Regions from separate parts of the Homo sapiens genome. Here regions 1 and 2 are each linked to region 3. Evidence: fine-mapped expression QTL. A gene starts in region 3. Each other region holds a variant in brackets. All regions are shown on one strand. Distances are between the middles of the regions. Region 1 overlaps SPINT2 (serine peptidase inhibitor, Kunitz type 2). Region 2 overlaps LOC105372394 (a long non-coding RNA gene). Region 3 holds the start of ZNF607 (zinc finger protein 607).

Region 1 (7,233 bases), 550 kb after region 3:
GTCTCTCTCATCGCCCAGTCTGGAGTGCAGTAGCGCGATCTCAGCTCACTGCAATCTCCACCTCCCGGGTTCACATCATTCTCCTGCTTCAGCCTCCTGAGTAGCTGGGACTACAGGCGCCCGCCACCACGCCCGGCTAATTTTTTGTATTTTTAGTAGAGACAGGGTCTCACCACCGTGTTAGCCAGGATGGTTCAAGGTCCTTTGTTGATTCTTCTTGGGAATTTCCACTGGAGGCAAGCAGGGCAACACTTATTTGAGAACCTCTCCTGCACCTTTTTTTTTTTTTTTTTTTTTTTGAGACAGAGTCTTGCTGTGTCACTCAGACTGGAGTGCAGTGGCGCCATCTTGGCTCATTGCAGCCTCTGCCTCCTGGGTTCAAGTGATTCTCCTGCCTCATCCGCCTGAGTAGCTGGGGTTACAGGTGTGCACCACCACACCCAGCTAATTTTTGTATTTTTAGTTGAGATGGGATTTCTTTTCTTTTTTTTTTTTTTTTTTTGAGACGGAGTGTCTCGCTCTGTCGCCCAGGCCGGAGTGCAGTGGCGCGTTCTCGGCTCACTGCAAGCTCCGCCTCCTGGGTTCACACCATTCTCCTGCCTCAGCCTCCCGAGTACTGGGACTACAGGCACCTGCCGCCACGCCCGGCTAATTTTTTGTATTTTTAGTAGAGACGGGGTTTCACCGTGTTAGCCAGGATGGTCTTGATCTCCTGACCTTGTGATCTGCCCGCCTCGGCCTCCCAAAGTGCTGGGATTACAGGCGTGAGCCACCGCGCCCGGCCTGAGATGGGATTTCAACATGTGGGCCAGGCTGGTCTCGAACTCCCGACCTCAGGTGATCTGCCCACCTCAGCCTCTCAAAGTGCTGGGATTACAGGCTCGAGCCACGTGGCCCAGCCCTCTCCTGCACTTCCAAGGGATTTTCGAAATGCATGGACCTCTCAGGTTAATTATAGTGTCTGTAGAACCTTAACTGCTGTAAGCTTTCCAGCAGACTCCACAGACGTGTTATTAGTTGCCACCCTTTCTTTACTTTCCTCCTCACCCCCATGGATAGTCGTGACCCTGGTGGTCAGAGATAAGATGACAGAAGAGCTAAAGTAAAGCTGGTGTTGGCGATCAGCTGGGAATTCTCTAAAACAGCTTCTCACATTATTCTTATCCTCCATAGAAGGAGTGCTTGTCCTACTTGCAGGCAAGGCAGTTTGGTTCCAGGGTAGTTCGAAATCTTATTCACTGATATAGTCAGCAAATGTTTATTGAGCACCCACCAATTGCCAGGCACTGACTCACTCAAATTAGAGCACTGAACAAAATAGACCCCCTCCCCCATCCGTGGCAGACGTGTCATAATGAGAGGAAGACAGTACAATAAATGAACAGATGAATGTATGTCTGGTGATGAGTGTCAGGGTTGGTGTGCTTAGCACTGAAAATGGGGGCTTCTGAGGTTCAAATGGTTGCAGTTCCTAAAGAAGGTTGAGGGCCTTGCCTTCAGGTCACCGCGGGAGACTGGCCCCTTTCCACTGGAAACATTGCTTTGCCCAGTCAGTATTTGAGAGCTCAGCCTGCAATGGAGAAATCACACTTCTCCTCTTTCACCCTGCTCCCCACCCTGTTTCTCATTTTACCCATCCCCAGCCATTTGCAGAATGCATGCAGAGCTTCTGTTTGCCATGTCTGGAGGCTACAGGGGAGGCTGAATAAGGGGTGATAAGCCTGTGGCTCATGTGAGGCGGGAGAGAGCCCAGCAGGAGTCACACTGAAATGACTCCATTAGCCCCAGGAGGCCTTGGCCCACCGGCCATGACTAATGTGGACATTAGAGTGTGGATTCCGATGTCCTGCAAGATCCTCCTCACAAGTGTCATTTCATGGTTTTTTTCTGGCAACATCTTTTTGAAAACTCCCTGTAAAGAAGTGCTGATGTTGATGCTGAGGCCCAGGAACTTTGGAGTTTATTTACCTTTTTTTGTTGTTTTATTTTCCTTGGCAGGTGAAGTAGGAGCTAGAGTTTACTTATTTTGAAGTTTATTTGAAATATGCTTTTTATGATTAGAAGCCATTTTAGAAATGAGGGCGAGGCCGGGCGCGGTGGCTCATGCCTGTAACCCCAGCACTTTGGGAGGCCGAGGCAGGCGGGTCACGAGATCAGGAGATCGAGACCATCCTGGCTAACACGGTGAAAACCCGTTTCTACTAAAAATACAAAAAAATTAGCCTCGCGTGGTGGCGGGCGCCTATAGTCCCAGCTATCTGGGAGGCTAAGGCAGGAGAATGGCGTGAACCCAGGAAGTGGAGCTTGCAGTGAGCTGAGATCATGCCACTGCACTCCAGCCTGGGCAACAGAGCAAGACTCTCTCAAAAAAAAAAAAAATGTTATGCTAAGTGAGAGGAGCCACTTACAAGAGACCACCACATGTTTGGCCGGGTACAGTGGCTCATGCCTGTAATCCCAGCACTTTGGGAGGCCGAGGTGGGTGGATCACGAGATCAGGAGTTCAAGACCAGCCTGGCCAAGATGTTGAAACCCCATCTCTACTAAAAATACAAAAAAAAATTAGCCGGGTGCAGTGGCAGGCGCCTGGAGGCTGAGGCAGGAGAATCGCTTGAACTCGGAGGGTGGAGGTTGCAGTGAGCCGAGATCACGCCACTGCAGTCCAGCCTGGGAGACAGAGTGAGACTCCATCTCAGAAAAAAAAGAGGGCAAGAATTCACATGTTGTTTTACTCACACGTGTTGGAGATGGAGCTCAGGGTGATTCCTGACTGGGCCCAGGGTCCATGGCCTCAGAAGTCCCTTAATCTGAAGTCCTTCACTTTTATGTGATACTGCTGGGCACAATGGCTCACGCTTGTAATCCCAGCACTTTGGGGGGCTGAGGCAGGTGGATTGCTTGACTGAGGAGTTTCAACATGGTGAAACAAAAAATACAAAAAACTAGTCAGCCTGTAGTCCCAGCTATGTGGGAGGCTGAGGTGGGAGAATTGCTTGAGCCCAGGAAGTGGAGGTTGCAGTGAGCCGAGATCGCACCATTGCACTCCAGCCTGGGCGACAGAGCGAGACCCCATCTCAAAACAATTTTATATGTGATAGTTTGTCCATGTGTATGCCAGGGTCTGTCATTTAGAGTGTATGGCATGTTCTTAAAGGGGTGGGGGAACAAAAAGATACTATAATAGTTTGTGACCTTTTGAAGGGCCGCTCTACATGAATAGATATATAGTATGTCTGTGGTGTTAAAATTTTGTGGGGCGATTAGGAAAAACATTTCCAAAAAGTCTTAGGGGGAAGGTAGTAATGAAAAAAGGTTGAGAAACACCATTCCAGAGAGAGGGTCCAAGAGCTTTCCTCAGTTCTGAAAATGGTCCATGATTTGCACAAGGTAAAGAATGGCTGAATGCGAATTAACAGCAGACAGTTTCTTAGAAGATTTGAAACTATTGTTTCCTTCCCAGCTATTCAGATGGACTGCTCGGGTTCTTGTTATGGATTGAGGCGAGGGTAGACTTAATAGTCTTGTTTCAGAGTGGAATATGGAGTGATGGTAGGCATGAGTAGTGATGAGTTGCATTGTGCTGATAGGTTATGAAATGTAAATTTTTTATTTTTTGATATGGAGTCTCTGTCGCCCAGACTCTGGAGTGCAGTGGTGCGATCTCGGCTCACTGCAACCTCCACCTTCTGGGTTCAAGCGATTCTCCTGCCTCAGCCTCCTGAGTAACTGGGATTACAAGCATGCACCACCACGCCCGGCTCATTTTTTTGTATTTTTAGTAGAGACGGGGTTTCACCATGTTGGCCAGGCTGGTGTTGAACTCCTGACCTCAGGTGATCCACCTGCCTCAGCCTCCCAGAGTGCTGGGGTTACAGGCGTGAGCCACCGTGCCCGGCCTGAAATGTAAACTTTTATATCTAAATATTTTATAT[A/G]GAAAATACCAAGATTTTATATCTGAAACACCAAGATTTTATGAGCCTCATAACTTAAGTAGGATTTGTAATTGTAAATGTTCTTTCCTCATAAATACCTGAGGTTTTTTTTTGAAAGGTTCTGAATTGTCTCAATAATGAAAACTTCCAGACACCCAAGCCTAGAGGAGATGGGTAGTTGGTAGCTTTCTGTACTGGAAACAGAAACACTCAAATATATAGAACCTAGCCAGCTAACCAAAGTAGGTAGATTTATAGATCATCTTAAAATAAGGCTGATTACACAGTAAATGTCACCTTTGGAATCTGGCTTGGTAGAATTGAAATAGGCTTCAGTACCTCCTGTCATTCAGTACCTGTTTTCTTGAACTCCTGACTTCAGGTGATCTGCCTCGGCCTCCCAGAGTGCTGGGCTTACAGGCATGAGCCACTGTGCCCGGCCTCAGTACCTCTTTTTAAGATGCTCTCATTCATTCCCTGGTGAAAAGATGCTTGAAGTGCAAGTGCAAGTAGGTGTGGAAAGCATGGAGGGTTTGTGTTGCTTCATTTGTTTTGGTATTTGTTTTTTCCACCAGTCCCTCCCTCTGGCTTTCTGCCTCCCAGCCCAGCATATCCTGATCTTGTAGCCATGCAGGACTTTGACCCGTGTGGTGGTTTGCCATTGTCTTCCTCCAGGTGAAGATAAGACATCATTGGTTTGGCTTGAGGTTGTACTTTTGGCCTTCCCTGTATATCCTCTTCCTCCTTATCCTCTCCGTCAGCATGCTTGGTTGGACTCTGTAGTGAAATGTGTCATTCTCTTTATTCTGACTGTCCCTATATTAGTCCTGTCTTCATAAAAAATACAATCGTAAAGATACAATATCTACTATTTGTTAAAAGTTTTGTGCTAGGCCAGGTGCGGTGGCTCACGCCTGTAATCCCAGCACTTCAGGAGGCCGAGGCGGGTGGATCATTTGAGCCCAGGACTTCAATACTAGTCTGGGCAACATGGTGAAACCTCGTTTCTACAAAAAATGCAAAAATTAACCGGGTATGGTGGCACACGCCTATAGTCCCAGCTACTTGGAGGCTGAGGTGGGTGGGTCACTGAGCACAGGTCAAGGCTACTGTGAGCCAAGATTGTACCACTGTACTCCAGCCTGGGTGACAGGGCAAGTCCCTGTCTCAAAAAAAAAAAGAAAGCTGTGTGCTAAATACTATTTTAAGCAATTATAATGGATTAAAAACTCCTTTAATCTTCACAACAATGTTTTTTCTTTCTTTTTTTTTGAGATGGAGTTCTTTGAAACTCTTGGATTAAATGACTCTTCAGAGCTTTCTTTGCTTTTTGATACTAAGGAGTGGCATGTCTGGGGATTTTTATAGCAAATAACTTCTCCTTGGCTACTATCCTTAGAATTCCAAGTGTTTTTAATGAAAAGAGGAGACTTGTTTTTAGTGATGTTAGTTGTTTTTAGGAAAGGTGTTCTGCAGTGTTTTTCGCTAAGGTGGCTCACGCCTGTAATCCCAGCACTTTGGGAGGCCGAGGTAGGCAGATCACTTGAGGTTAGGAGTTTGAGGCCAGCCTGGCCAGCACAGCAAAACCCTATCTACTGAAAATACACAAAGTAGCCAGGTGTGGTAGTACACTCCTGGAGTCCTAGCTACTCAGGAGGCTGAGGCAGGAGATGACTTGAACCCGGGAGGCAGAGGTTGCAGTGAGCCTAGATCGCACTATTGCATTCCAGCCTGGACGACAGAGTGAGACTGTCTTAAAAAAAAAAAAAAACATAAAATGGAGAGGTAGACCAGCTTACGGGAGGTGTTGCACTTCCCTCTGCCACTGGAGAGACTCTGGATCTGCAGCCAGGGAGCTTGTGAAGGCTTCTTGTCCACGGAAATGAGGGCGGCAGTTGTGACTTTCTGGATGGTGGCCCAGAGGAAGCAACACTGGCAGAGCCTCTTCTGTGAAGCAGCTCTGCGAGCAATTTTGTGACATTGAAAGAGCAAAGGATAAAACGTTGAAAGCTGATCCAGATCTAGAAAAGTGTTTGGCAATTGCTGGAAAAGGTGTAGAAATGATGCTTGCTCTGTATCGTAAGTTATATGGTGAGAAGACCACAAGCACGGTTCAAACTCCCCTTAGAAATTCTTTTGCACAGAAATTAACACTTTAATCCTAAATGTTTCCAATGTTTTAACTTACAGTATGCTAAATAAACATTCTTTCTGTTTGTTTGTTTTGTTTTGTTTTGTTACTCTGTGCATTTATAGCCAATAGAGTTTTTCTTTCCTTATTTTTTTGACACAGGGTCTTGCTCTGTCGCCCAGGCTAGAGTGCAGTGGTGCGATCTCAGCTCACTGCAACCTCCGCCTCCTGAGTTCAAGTGATTGTCCCGCCTCAGCCTCCCGAGTAGCTGGGACTACAGGCGCGCGCCACTGTGCCGGGCTAAGTTTTATATTTTTAGTAGAGATGGGGTTTCGCCATGATAGCCAGGGTGGTCTTGAAATCCTGACCACAGGTGTGAGCCACTGTATCTGGCCAAAAAAATTTTTTTATTTTTTGTAGAGACAGGGTCTCACTATGTTGCCCAGGCTGGTCTTGAACTCGTGACCTCAAATGATCCTCCTGCCTCGGCCTCCCAAAGTGCTGGGATTATAGGTATGAGCCACCATGCCCAGCTTGACAAAAAAATTTTTTTTTTTTTTTGAGAGATGAAGTTTCACTCTTGTTGCCCAGGCTGGAGTGCAATGGATCAGCTCACTGCAACCTGTGCCTCCTGGGTTCAAACGATTCTCCTGCCTCAGCCTCCAGAATAGCTGGGATTACAGGCATGCACCACCACGCCCGGCTAATTTTGTATTTTTAGTACAGACGGGGTTTCTCCATATTGGTCAGGCTGGTCTCGAACTCCTGACCTCAAGTGATCCACCTGCCTCGGCCTCCCAAAGTGCTGGGATTACAGGTGTGAGCCACCACGCCCAGCTGACAAAAATTTTTAAATGTCATTGAGCAGTATCATTTTTCCCACTGATTATGAGATTGCTTTGTGTGATCACACACTGACGGGCAGGCCAATTGCTGCTTGTATTCAGTATTTGGCCCCTTATAGAAAACATTTGCAGACCCTTGTTCTAGAAAAAACAGATGGGTGGGAGGAGGAGGAGGAGAAGCATTTCAGGAGTGGCTTTGGGCTTTCCTGTCCTGCACGTGGTGAGGCAAGAAGCTCTTGTGCCTCAGCTCATAGCACTCATGGGAGTCTGTCAATAACTAGAACCCTAGGAGTTATTTTTGCTTGTTTTAAAAATAAGCTTGTTT
Region 2 (7,233 bases), 73 kb after region 3:
TAGTCCCAGCTACTCGGGAGGCTGAGGCAGGAGAATCCCTTGAGCCCAGGAGGCGGAGGTTGCATGAGCTGAGATCGCACCACTGCACTTCAGCCTGGGAAGTAAAAAGGTTTTTTTCGTTTTGTTTTGTTTAAACTGTTTTTTTTTTTTACCATTCAGATATATGGAATGTTTATAGATATCTACCAAGATAAATAATTACCATATCAAGGTTCTAAATTTTAAAAAATATTTTTTCCCTTTGTTACGTTTAGGAAGCCTATTCCAGGCCGGGGGCTGTGGCTCACGCCTACAATACCTGCATTTTGGGAGGCTGAGGCCGGGGGATGATGAGGTCAAGAGATCAAGACTATCGTGGTCAACATGGTGAAACCCCGTCTCTACTAAAAATACAAAAATTAGCTGGGCGTGGTGGCGCGCGCCTGTAGTCCCAGCTACTCGGGAGGCTGAGGCTGGAGAATGGCTTGAACCAGGGAGTCGCAGGTTGCAGTGAGCCGAGATCACGCCACTGCACCCTAGCCTGGCGACAGAGGGAGACTCCGTGTCAAAAAAAAAAAAAAAAAAAAAAAAGAAGAAGAAGAAGAAGAAGATGGCCGGGTGCGGTGGCTCACGCCTGTAATCCTAGCACTTTGGGAGGCCGAGGTGGGCGGATCATGAGGTCAGGAGATCGAGACCATCCTGCCTAACATGATGAAACCCTGTCTCTACTAAAAATACCAGAAAAAAAAAAAAAATTAGCCAGGCGTGGTGGCGGGCGCCTGTAATCCCAGCTACTCGGGAGGCTGAGGCAGAAGAATGGCGTGAACCCGGGAGGCAGAACCCGGGAGGCAGAGGTTGCAGTGAGCTGAGATCGCGCCACTGCACTCCAGCCTGGGCAACAAAGCGAGACTCCATAAAAAAAAAAAAAATCCTATTCCAGGCCAGCCGGGCACGGTGGCTCACGCCTGTAATCCCAGCACTTTCGGAGGCCGAGGTGGGCGGATCACCTGAGGTCAGGAGTTCGAGACCAGCCTGGCCAACATGGTGAAACCCCATCTCTACTAAAAATACAAAAATTAGCCAGGTGTGGTGGCGGATGCCTGTAATCCCGGCTACTTGGAAGGCTGAAGCACGAGAATCACTTGAACTCGGGAGGCAGAGGTTGCAGTGAGCCGAGATCGCGCCATTGCACTCCAGCCTGTGGAACAGAGTGAGACTCCGTCCCTAAAACAAACAAACAAGCAAACAAGCCTATTCCAAAACAAAAATAATGAAAGTATTTATTTCTTTGGATGTTTTTAAATAAAATTTTTAATCATATGTATTCGTGTCCAAAGGTGAAGAACATAATGTATTGAAGAATGTGGTGGGACTTAAGTCACTCCTATAGGACCTGAGTCCATTTACCTAACCCTTTTCTTTTACCCGAGTCAGGTTCCACCCAGACTCGCCTCCTACTGGCGCTGAGAACGCAGCGACTCCACCCTTAGCCTCAGGTCGGGGGCCCCAGCATTTGTCTGATCTGCGCTTGCGTACTCCTAGGCCAGGTGGCCACTCCCAGAGGTGTCCCAGGCTCGCGCGGTGGGCGGGGCGCGCGGTCCTCGTGGTCACATCCGTATTTCCTGTAGGTTTTTAGGACTCTGGACTCCACTTCTCAGGGTTGCCTGCGGTCCTGACTGTTCCGTCTTGGACTACATATTCCACGGGCGACGGAGAAATCTTGTACCTCTGGCTCCGTCTCCTGGACCTCTGCGCTGCCCGTGACCTGGTCCCACCTGAGGAAGAAGGCGGCGCGGGTCGCTGCCGGAGCTTCTGCAGCCCCAGCCCGCAGCCCGCGCGGGACCCTGGGTGGCGGTGAGAGTGGAGCTGCAGGAGGCACTCAGAGCGCGGAGGCCTCGGGCGCGGGCCGGACTTGTCTCCCACCTACTCAGGCCTTGGGGTGCTGGAGCTGCGAAGGAAGGGGCTCATCTCTAGGGAGACAGGTGGAGAACGTCTCCTTTGTGACGTGGAGACTGAGAAGGGTGCGTGAATGTGTTGTGTGACCGGGACATAGCGTGAGTGTCCTTTGAAAGCGTGCTTTGCTATAACTCTGTGGTGTCACTGACCCGTGGGTCAGGGTCTCAGTTTCCCTGTCTCCTCTCAGCCTCGTATGACTGCCACAGAGAAATGATCTAAGCGCAAAATCAGATACTGAGCCTTAGATGAAGTTTTCCAGTGAGAAGAAACGGATAGGATGGGAAGCTTAGAGCAGGAATTCCCTTAAGACGGTGTGATAGACTCTTTTAAAGAAAAAATATTCAGTCTTTAACACTCGTTAAAGCATGCAAAGGAAGACTTTATTCAGGATCATCGTGATAGGTATTGGAAGCACAGCAGTGAGATTTTGCAATGGGTACAAGAGATTGGGTTCAACTCCAAATTCAGCATGAACGAGTAGGAATTTATAGTCAAGGAGCAGGTTAGGGATCACTGGATGACAAAATACTAAGAGGAAATGTCTGGGATAAGTAGGATTCTGGCTAAACGCACCTGTTGGGATTCTTTCTGAAGAGAGAGACCTGGATGATAAGACATCATCGCCTGGGGGATAGTGGAGGATGAAGATGGGGGGCAGAGGGTTCTTGCTAAACTGACTTAAAAGGGGCCTTTGTTATTGTTGGATTTTATAATGAAGTGTACAGATGGGCCCAGGGGAAGGTGTAAGAGCCTGAGTAAAGTTTGGTCACGCAGGGTTTGTGTAGGATTCCTTCCTGGAAGGGTTGTACACTCCGCCCCCATCTCCCGGTTCTTGGAGTTTCATTTACGTGTTTAAGAATCACGTGGATGGTGAACCCTGATTCTGAAGTCGGTGTCTGCTGTGTTCATGGCAGGATTCGGTTAGGAGGAACAGCACAGCATGCTGGGCTCTGGATTTAAAGCTGAGCACTTAAGAGTGAATTTGAGATTAGTCATAAATCGCCTTGAACTATTGGAGGAAAAAAAAAAAAAACAGAACTGGCCCAGAAAGCAAGGAAGGAGATTGCTGACTATCTGGCTGCTGGGAAAGATGAACGAGCTCGGATCCGTGTGGAGCACATTATCCGGGAAGACTACTTCGTGGAGGCCATGGAGATCCTGGAGCTGTACTGTGATCTGCTGCTGGCTCGGTTTGGCCTTATCCAGTCTATGAAGGAACTAGATTCTGGTCTGGCTGAATCTGTGTCTACATTGA[T/C]CTGGGCTGCTCCTCGACTCCAGTCAGAAGTGGCTGAGTTGAAAATAGTTGCTGATCAGCTCTGTGCCAAGTATAGCAAGTAATATGGCAAGCTATGTAGGACCAACCAGATTGGAACTGTGAATGACAGGCTAATGCACAATCTGAGTGTGGAAGCCCCATCCAAAATCCTGGTGGAGAGATACCTGATTGAAATTGCGAAGAATTACAATGTACCCTATGAACCTGACTCTGTGGTCATGGCAGAAGCTCCTTCTGGGGTAGAGACAGATCTTATTGATGTTGGATTCACAGATGATGTGAAGAAAGGAGGCCCTGGAAGAGGAGGGGGTGGTGGGTTCACAGCACCAGTTGGTGGACCTGATGGAATGGTGCCAATGCCCATGCCTATGCCCATGCTATCTGCAAATACTCCTTTCTCATATCCACTGCCAAAGGGACCATCAGATTTCAATGGACTGCCAATGGGGACTTACCAGGCCTTTCCCAATATTTATCCATCTCAGATACCAGCAACTCCCCCATCATATGAATCTGTAGATGACATTAATGCTGATAAGAATATCTCTTCTGCACAGATTGTTGGTCCTGGACCCAAGCCAGAAGCCTCTGCAAAGCTTCCTTCCTGACCTGCGGATAACTATGACAACTTTGTCCTACCAGAGTTGCCATCTGTGCCAGACACACTACCAACTGCATTTGCTGGTGCCAGCACCTCAGCATCTGAAGACATTGACTTTGATGATCTTTCCCAGAGGTTTGAAGAGCTGAAAAAGAAAATATAGGTCTCTTAAACCAGGCAACTTTCATATTCTGGGAGTTGAGACTGAGCAATTTCTCCTTGTAACAAAGAATCTCCATGAAATTCCTTTTCATCTGTTAACCGTCACTGAGCACAACACTCCTCCTCTGGGCTCTCTGCCTGCTCCTCCAGATTCTGCTGCTTTCCAGTTCTCTGTTGATCCTGAGACTAACAACCGGAGACTGAGGCTGGAGCAACTGGCTCCTGGCAGCTGTGCTTGTCCCTTTTCTGTCAGAGTGATCCCAGGTTTCCTCCTGGCCCGTCCCATGGTCCCTCCACAGGAGCATAAGAGGATGGGAAAGCACTATGGGGAGACCACCAAAGATGGCTGGACAGTGGGAGAGAGCACGTCGTGAAGCATCCCAGCCTCGTGTTGAGGTTCCAGACTTAGAAACAAACCCCTCTGTACAGGGGGATTGTGGTGAGTGAGAATCAAGGCCACGGTGTGTGTTTTCGCACTCGAATGCAAGTGGGAGAGAGAAAATGACTCAGGACGCCATTGTAACGGTTCCTGGAAGCTGGGCCCTCTCATTGGCATATACACTACTCCTCGCCGCAGGGCACTGTCCCACCGGGATCCAGTTGCAAAGTTTGTCTCGACAGTTTAAGGCCTCGCTTAGTTGTACTGGATTCTCAGGGAGTCCTCTGTGGCCTTTTGCTCTGAGTGCTGTTTCCCTTGTACCAGAGGGCAGCACCATGGAAATTCTGTTTTTCCTGTAGCATATTGTGTTGGATTGCCTTACTGGCAGAGAAAGGACAAATTGCCATTGAAGTCTAGGGTGGGCTTCCAGCTGCCTTAATAGAAGTACTCAAGTCTTTTGGGTAGTGAGCTGGAAAGCCTACAGGAAAAAAGGGGTACCTGTTTTCATTTGAAAACTTTGATTCATGGAAACTTTAAAACTAATCTCAGATAAATTTTTGGTGCAAATGTGGCTGTAGTTGTCCACTGCTTTCCTGGATGGATGGGACTCTTATGTCATAACTTCTATACTCCTTTGGCCCATAGCTAAGGTCATCCTTCCCCACAGGGGTGGCTTTGGGATTGGATTATACAGCTTTTGCTTCTGTGTAGTATACCTGTACATACCTGTTTCAGGAAGCCTTTCTTTAATGTTTTCAGTTGGTTTGTATTCTGTAGCTCAGTAGCTGCTAATAAAGTTAAAGATCCTGGAAAAAAAAAAAAAGAATCACGGCCTTCTTGAATTCTGACTCTAAGAACCTGCAGTGAAGGATGACTAGAGATTTCACCTACCATACTTCCTTCTGGTTATGTGTATGAAATTATGCACCTGTAGCCTTGGAGGGGGAAACAGAAACACTATTTCGAGGAGTTTTTGGATCGTTCCGTTTTGGATTTCTGTAGATCAAAAGCAATAGGAATATGAACTCAGTTGTGATGTGTTCGTGCAAATGAAGGAAGTGAGCCGGAAATTTAAGTGCCCCAAAATAGGAATTCTTAGTCATTGGGTCCATTGTCTGTTTTTACGGGCATACAGGGCACCACAATCCCCCTGAAACTTTATATACATGTTTGTTAATTTGCATTTTTCCAGGGTTCCATCTTCCAAATTATTTAGACTTGAGCTTTAGACCTGGAATCAGAGTGTTATACCTTTGAATGGTTTTGCAGAAAACTAATGATCAAGATTATGAGAATGGTTAAGAAAATCATACAACATCCATGGGATTGGACATTATACTGATAATAAAATTTATGTTTATAAAGAATTTGTTATTAGCTGCATACCAGATATCAGGGAAACAAAAAATAATAAGAATTTGTCATTAACGGAAAAATGACTGTGATCTAACCTTAAACAGTATTCACAGTTGTAGATCACAGTTCTCAAAAACTGTATATGCATCCCATTTTTTAAAAATGGAAGTTTCCAAAACCTTTTGCAAGGATTGTATCTAATATGACCATTCAATTGGTTTTTCAGAGAAGAATAGAAGGGGAGAGGCCACATTTATTGAACATCTAATGTGTACCCAAATCATGTGGTCTGTTTTCTGTATCTTTTCTCATTTAATGCGCAAAGACCATTTCCCTGTTCATTAAGGGAAGAATCTTAATAGTGAAATGTTTCTAATTATGTAGAAGTGGCACAGCTAAAGGCTATTCAAGAGGACACATGTTACATGACACGTTGATACTTTTTAATTCTAGTCCTAGTACTTAGGTTTCTTTTCATGACAAAAATGTACCCTCTTCTAAAAAGTTTAATGCTTTGGAATGTATTGATGTTCTATTTGTAATGATGGAATTAAGGCAGGCTCATTGCAAAAATTTCATTACCTAAGGAAGTTATGAAGAAGAAAGAATAACCCCAAATCCCCCCTGCCCAGAGAAAATCACTTTACATATTTTGGTGTATGTGTTTCTAATTTTCATGTATGAACATTTGTGTGTAGTTTTGTCATTGCAGAAGAGAATTAATAGAGACACAAAGACTCCAACTGTTAGTTCGAAAATGGAATCTACCTCAATTGTTGCTGTTAAACCAAAATTATGGTATGGTATTGCTTTGGACTGAGCTTCTGCACTAGGCTCCAACAGACCACACCAAACCAAAATGAAGTCACTCATGCTAAATGCCACATTATCAAACTGAAACTTTAAGGGAGCAGATAAATCTCAAAAAAAACCTGTTTTTCCTGAAAACAAGAGATTCCAGTCTAAATAATTGATGTTCACCACTCCTTTCTTATTTTTAATTTAAAAAACTTTTTTTTAAAGACAGGGTCTCACTCTGTCACCCAGGTTAGAATGCAGTGGAGTGGTTATGGCTCACTGCAGCTTCAAACTCCCGGGCTCAAGCGTTCCTCCCGCCTCAGCCTCCCAAGTAGCTGGGACTACAGACGTCCGTCACCAGGCCTCAGTTCTTTTTTCTCTAGTTCTGTTATTTGTTCCCACCTTACACAAAACCCACTGCATTGGGCAAGGGCTCTCATTCTATTTTATACAATGGAGGCTGCCCCGTTTGTGAATCCCAAATAAAAGCCCATGAGATCTAAAGTCAATTTATTGTAACTTTGTCTTTTGACGTGGGTTTCCATATATCTGTGTATCTTAGGAGGATAGGGAAGTACCAGGGACCACCTGAGGTGAAAAACAACTACGTATTTACGCCTTTTAGATACTAAAAACATCATTTAACACTCAAGACGTCACAAATTATGAAGTAAGATATCCTCTCAGAATTAATAATTTATGCTGGGCTCATGTCTGTAAAATCCC
Region 3 (7,233 bases):
GAGATATATGAAAGCCCATGTCAAAAGACCTAGTTGCAACACATTGACTTACAGATCTAATGGGCTTTGTGATTCATGAAAGGGGTAGCCTCCATTGTACAAAATAGCGTAAGAGCTCCTACTGAGCAATGGAGAAACAGTGGATTTTGTAAGGTGGAAACAAATAAGAGAACTATAGAAAAAAAAATTGATTGGTGACTATCAGGCTACTTCAGTTTACTTTTTTCTGGAAGGTTAAGCGGAGGTCATTTCCTTATTATGCTGACTCAGGTAGACTGGAGTCTCCTGTTTTCAGGAAAAACTGATCTGTTTGGAACTCTACCTGCTCCCTTAAAGTTTCAGTTTTGTAATGTGGCTTTTAGCATGAGTGACTTCATTTTGGTTTAGTCTGGTCTGTTGGAGCCTAGTGCAGAAGCTCAGTCCAAAGTAATGGTGTCTCATCATACTGGTTTTATATCCATGGTTGGGTTAGATTCCTTTTTCTAACTAAAAGTAGGAGTCTGTCTATTTCATTAATTCTCTTCTGTAAAGACAAAACCACACACAAGTGCTCACACATGAAAACTGAAAACATATACACCCAAATTTGTAAAGTGATTCTCTCTGGGCAGGGAGGTTTGGGTTATTCTAAATTTCTTCTTTGAAACTATCTTAGGGAGTGAAATTTTTGTGACGAAACTGCCTTAATTCCATCATCATAAATATAACTTCAAGATATTTCAAAGTAGTAATAAACTATTTCTAAAAGTATCCTTATGGGGAGAGGGTACATGTGTCATTAAAAGAAATCTAAATATTAGGCCTAGAATGAAAAATCAGCGTGACTAAAACATGTAACTCTTTGTCTTCTTGAACAGCCTTTAGCTGTGTTTCTTCTACATAACTAGAAACAATTCACTATAAAGATTCTTTCCTTAGTGGACAGGGAAATGGCTTCTGCACATCTAATGGGAACAGGTACACAAAATAGGTCCAATAATTTGGGGCACACATTATATGCTCAGTAAATGTAGCCACAACCCTTTCATTCCTCTCTGAAAAACCAATTAAATAATCATTTTGGATACAATCCTTGCAAAAGTTTTTGCAAAATTCCCTTTGTTTAATTTTAATTTTAAATTTTATTTTTTTGAGACGGAGTCTCGCGCTGTCGCCCAGGCTGGCGTGCAGTGGCTCGATCTCGGCTCACTGCAAGGTCCGCCTCCCAGGTTCACACCATTCTCCTGCCTCAGTCTCCCGACTAGCTGGGACTACAGGCGCCCACCACCACGCCCGGCTAATTTTTTGTATTTTTAGTAGAGACGGGGTTTCACCATGTTAGCCAGGATGGTCTCAATCTCCTGACCTCATGATCTGCCCGCCTCGGCCTCCCAAAGTGCTGGGATTACAGGCGGAAGCCACTGTGCCAGGCCCAAAATTCCATTTTTAAAAAATGAGCTGCGGCTGGGCGTGGTGGCTCACGCCTGTAATCCCAACACTTTGGGAGGCCAAGGTGGGTGGATCACCTGAGGTTGGGAGTTCAAGACCAGCCTGACCCACATGGAGAAACCCCGTCTCTACTAAAAATACAAAAAAAAAAAAAAAATAGCCAGGCATGGTGGCCCATGCTTGTAATCTCAGCTACTCAGGTGGCTGAGGCAGGAGAATCGCTTGAACCCGGGAGGCGGAGGTTGCAGTGAGCAGAGATCGCACCATTGCACTCCAGCCTGGGCAACAAGAGCGGAACTCAGTCTCAAAAAAAAAAAAAAAAAAAAAAAAGAAAGAAAAAGAGTTGCATATATAGTTTGAGAACTGTGATCCACCACTGTAACTCTAAATAGTGTTAAACATTAGATCACAGCTATTTATCCTGTGACAGATTCTTTACAAACATAAATCTTATTATTTGTATAATATCCAATCCCTTGGACGCTGTATAATTTTCTTAACCATTCCCATAATCTCGTTCATTAGTTTTCTGCAAAACCATTCAAAGGTATAAAACTCTTTGATTCCAGATCTAAAACCTGAGTCTAAATAATTTGGATTATGGACATCCTAGAAAAATGCAAATTAACAAACATGTACAGGAATTCTTTATAGAATTTCAGGGGGTTTGTGATGTCCCTTATGCCCATAAGGGCATTGGTCTACAGACAGTACACCAATGACCGAGAATTCCTATTTTGGAAAACTTAAATTCTGGCTCACTTCCTTCACATCACGGCTAAGTTCATATTCTTGTTGCTTTTGATCTACAGAAATCCAAAACGGAATATCCAAAATTGCCTCATAATACTTAGCGCTTATGTTTCCCCCCTCCAAGGCTGCAGGCGCGTAATTTCATACACACGACCAGAAGGAAGTATGTTGGATGGAACCTGCAATCATCCTTCACTGCAGGTTCTTGGGGTCAGAATTCAAGGCCGTGTTTGTTAAACATGTAAATGAAACTCCAAGAACCGGGAGGTGGGGGCGGAGTAACAACCCTTTTCAGGAGGGAATCCTACACTCGAAACTGACAAACCCTGCCAGACCAAATTTTAGTCAGGCTACTACACCTTCAGCTAGGCCCATCTGTACACTTCACTGTAAAATCTGGCTATAGCAAAGAACTATTCTAAGTCAGTTTAGCAAGACCCTTTCGCCTCCGTATCTTCATCCTCCACCGTCCCCCAGGTCTCTCTCTCCAGAAATAATCCTGTTAGGTGCGTTTAGTCAGAATCTTCCTTAACCCAGACATTTCCTCTTAGTAATTTCTCATCCAGTGATCCCTAACCTTCTTGGCTATAAATTCCCACTTGTTCATGCTGAATTCGGAGTTGAGCCCAATGTCTGTTACCCACTGCAAAATCTCACAGCCGGGATCCCAATACCTACCACCATGGTCCTGAATAAAGGGTTCTTTGCATGCTTTAACAAGTGTCACTGAATACTTTTTTATTTAACAGAATCTATCATACCTTTCTTAAGGGCAATTACTCTTCTAAGCTTCTCATCCTATCTGTTTCTTCTCACTGGAAATCTTCATCTAAGACTCAGTATCTGATTTCCCATTGGGACCATTTCTCTGTTGTAGTCGTACTAGGCTGAGGAAGGCACAGGAAGCAGCAGGGAACCTGGAGCCAAGGGTCAATAGACCCCACAGAGCCCAGCGAAGCACGCTTTACAAAGGACACACACGGCATGTACAGGTCACACAAGGTCGACTACGCACCCCTCACAGTCCCGCAACTGCACCCACGTCACACAGGCAAGCCGGTCCTGTCGCCGCTGCGCGGTCTCTCACGCTCCCCGCCTGTCTCCTAGAGACGGGCCCCTCCTCCGCAGCTCCAGCACCCTAGGGCCTGAGGAGGCGGGAGACTCGCCCGGCCCGCCTGGGGGCCTCCGCGCTCTGAGCGCCTCCTGCAGCCCCACTCTCACCGCCACGCAGGGTACCACGCGGGCGGCGGGCTGGGGCTGCAGAGGCTCCCGCAGTGACCTGCGCCGCCTTCTTCAGGTGGAACCAAAAGGTCCCGGAACCGGAGCCAGGGGTCCAAGTTTTCTCCGTTGCCTTTGTAATATGTAGTCCAAGCCAGAACAGTCAGGACCGCAGGTACCGGTGAGAAATGGAGTCCAGAATCCTAAAAACCTACGAGAAATACGGCAGCGACCACTTGGACCGCGCCTCCCACCCACCGCTCGAGCCCCGGAGACTTCTGGGAGTGGCCGCCTTGCCTCGAGTGCGCATGCGCAGATCGGCCACTACTGGGCCCCTGGCCTGAGGCTTAGGGTGGAGTTAGTGCGTTCTTAGGGCCAGTAGGAGGCGAGTCTGAGTAGAAACTGATCCAGGTAGCCTCGGAAGGGATCACCTGCTGGATGGGTGTGAGCTCCTCAGGGTGGGGCGCCGAAACCCTCATGGCTCCTGAGGTAGAGCCGGCCTCCTTGGTAACACATGGGACTGGGACTTTTAATACCACCCGACAGGCCCAGCTTGTCTCGTCAAGCGCTAAGTAAATGGACTCACGTCCTATATGAGGGTTTGAAGTTCCATCACATTCTTCAATACATGACATTATGTTCTTCATCTTTGGACACGAATATATTTGACTAAAAATTTGACTAAAAAATCATCTGAAGAAATAACTGCTAAATAGTTTTATTATTTTTGTTCTGGAATAGGCTTCTTGAAGATAAAATAAGAAATTTAAAAAATTTTTTTGATCCTTCATGTAATACTTTGTAAATCTTCATAGTTATTTAGAAGCATCCAAAATTTCCAAATGGTAAAAAACGAATAAGAAAAATTTTTAGGTAAGTAAATTTGGGGGAAATATTTACAACAGCTAAAACGGACAAATATTTAATAGTCCGAATTTCCTGTTTCTTTGGCTTAATAAAATATTGATGAATACAGGCTGGGCACGGTGGCTCACGCCTTTAATCCCAGCATTTTCGGAGGCCAAGGCAGGAGGATCAGTTGAGGCCAGAAGTTCAAAACCAGCCTAAGAAACATAGTGAGACACCCCTCTCCTCCTCCCAAACTCTACCAAAAATGAAAGTTAGCCTGGTGTGGTGGCACACGCCTGTGGGCCCAGCTATTCCAAAGACAAAGGTAGGAGGATCAGTTGAGCCCGGAAGTTCAGGCTTCAGTGAGGTATGATGGTGTCACCGCACTCTGGCCTGAGCAACAGAGCAAGACCTTGTCTCAAAAAATAAATAAGTAAAATTAATTTAAAAATAAAAAATATTTGTCTATACCCTAAGAGGAAAAGGAACAAAACTAAAAAATCACCATTCAAAAATACAAATAGTCAAGGAAAAAAAACTATTAAAGTTACAATTTAAGAACTTATTGATCACTTTTTCTTCTCTTAATTAGTTCTTGGATTTGTTGCTCCTGAATCTCCTGAATAATCTCTCAGAAATACCACACATAGATCAATGGATTAAATTGACTCCACATATTATTTTCTTTTTCTTTTTTCTCTTTTTGAGACGGAGTTTTGCTCTAGTTGCCCAGGCTGGAGTGCAATGGCACGATCTTGGCTCACTGCAACCTCCACCTCCCAGGTTCAAGCGATTTTCCTGCCTCAGCCTCCTGAGTAGCTGGAATTACAGGCATGCATCACCATGCCCAGCTAATTTTGTATTTTTAGTAGAGACAGGGTTTTACCATGTTGGTCAGGCTGGTCTCGAACTCCCAACCTCAGATGATCTGCCCGCCTTGGCCTCCCAAAGTGCTGGGATTATAGGCATGAGCTACTGCGCCCGGCTCCACATACTATTTTCAACAAGGATACCAAGGCATTTTAAGGAAGGGAAGAGTAGTCTTTGTTGAAAAGACTGGAATTAGAGATGCACATAGAAAGGAATGAATTGAGTTCCCTGCCTCTCACCATATACAAAATCAACTCAAAATGGATCAAACACCTAGGTGTAAGACTTAAAACAGTAGAACATTTAGAAGGAAATGTAGGCATAAATCTTCTGGACTTTATAGTCAGCAATTGTTTCTTAACCGTGACATCAGAATCACAAGCAACAACATCAAAAAAGGAAATTGGACATAAATTGTAAAACATTGTGCTTCAAAACCCACCAAGAATGTGAGAAGCTACCCAAAGAGTGAGAAAAATTGTTTGTAAATTATGTATCCAATAAGGGATTTGTATCTAGAATATATAAAGAAGTCTTGCAACTCAATAATAAAAAGCCCAACAAAAATGGGCAAAGTAACTGAATAAGCATTTCTCAAAAAAAAAAAAAAAGTATACACATGGCTACTAAATACTTGAAAACATGTTCTATATTAATCATTAAGAATATGCAAATCAGCCAGGAGCAGTGGCTCATGCCTGTAATCTCAGCACTTTGGGAGGTCGAGGCAGGAGGATTGCTTGAGCCTAGGAGTTCGAAACCAGCCTGGGAAACAAAGAAAAAGACTATGTAAATCAAAACCCCAAAACCCCAATGAGATATACTACTTAGGATGACTAAAATCAAATAAATATACAATAACAAATTTTGGATAGGATTTGGATAAATAGAACCCTATATACATTGATGGTGTCACTGGAAAATGGTAGAACTACTGTATAAACAGTCTGGCAGTTCCTCAGAAGAATGTAGAGTTACCATACGATGTAGCAATTTTAGTCCTAGGTATATTCTCAAGACAAAACCATATGTTCTCACAAAGCTTGTACACAGATATTTATAGCAGCATGATTCATGATAGCCAAAACTGGAAAGAAAACCCAATTGTTCTTCATTTTATAAGTAGATAAGTAAAATGTGGCATATCTACACAATGGACTATTATTTGGTAATATAAGGAAATGAAGATCTGATACAAGCTACAACATAGATCAACCTTGAACACTATGCTAAGTGAATGAAGCTGGTACAAAAGACCACATATTTATGATTCCTTCTATGTGAAATTTCTTCTCATATAAAATTTCCAATGTGGGCTAATTTATAGAGACTGAAAGTAAATTGTTTCCTAAATTGAACGGTGGCAGAAGGAATTGGGATGGTGGCTAAAGGCTTTCATGCTGGCGTGATGAAAATGTTATAAAACTGTGTTGAAGGTTTCACAACTTTGTGACTACATTAAAAACTACTGGATTTTACACTTTAAATGAGTGAATTGGATGGAATGTGAATTATATACAAAGTTGTTACCAAAAGAAATAAAAAAGAAATACAGAGTTTTCAACAAGTAAAAACTGAGAGCATTTGTTGTTAGCAGATCTTCTTTATAAGAAATGTTAAAGAAAATTCTTGAGAAAGAATAGGACAGAATCAGAAATTTGTATCTAAACAAGAAATGAAGAGTCAGAATTAAAGTTAATGGAAGTAAAACCATTTTTTTCCTCATATTTAGTTTCTCTGAAAGATAGTAATAATGTTATTATTATTATTCTTAAAATTTTTTGAGATACAGTCTTGCTTTGTCACCCAGGCTGGAGTGCAGTGGCACGATCTCAGCTTACTGCAACCTCCGCCTCCCAGATTCAAGCAATTCTCCTGCCTCAGTCTCCCAAGTAGCTGGGATTACAGGCACGCGCCACCAGGCCCGGCTAATTTTGTATTTTTAGTAGAGACAGGGTTTCACCATGTTGATCAGGCTGGTCTTGAACTCCTGACTTCAAGTGATCCACCAACCTTGGCTTCCCAAAGTGTTGAGATTACAGGTGTGGGCCACTGCGCCCAGACTATCTTATTGTTTTTTAAAGACAGGATCTTGCTCCGTTGCCCAGGCAGGAG

The links. PIP is the estimated chance that this variant, and not a neighbour inherited with it, causes the effect.
Region 1: its variant is the best candidate, but not a certain one, in a credible set for the expression of ZNF607 in spinal cord (GTEx, PIP 0.85).
Region 2: its variant is the best candidate, but not a certain one, in a credible set for the expression of ZNF607 in fibroblasts (GTEx, PIP 0.71).

Annotation. Positions count from the first base shown.
Region 1 is chr19:38,269,125-38,276,357 of GRCh38, forward strand. The region is part of intron 1 of SPINT2 (serine peptidase inhibitor, Kunitz type 2); the gene reads left to right. Among named protein-coding and RNA genes, the nearest start is that of SPINT2, 8.2 kb to the left of the region's middle. The variant A/G (reference allele first, on the strand shown) is at 3,933.
Region 2 is chr19:37,788,897-37,796,129 of GRCh38, forward strand. It overlaps LOC105372394 (a long non-coding RNA gene), which reads right to left. Exons shown (of 4, transcript NR_187848.1): 3 at 5,080-5,159; 4 at 2,294-4,831. It also overlaps the pseudogene LOC728533. Among named protein-coding and RNA genes, the nearest start is that of ZNF573, 13 kb to the left of the region's middle. The variant T/C (reference allele first, on the strand shown) is at 3,191.
Region 3 is chr19:37,716,073-37,723,305 of GRCh38, forward strand. It overlaps ZNF607 (zinc finger protein 607), which reads right to left and starts at 3,689. Exons shown (of 5, transcript NM_032689.5): 1 at 3,197-3,689. RefSeq lists silencers at 3,191-3,280, 3,341-3,450.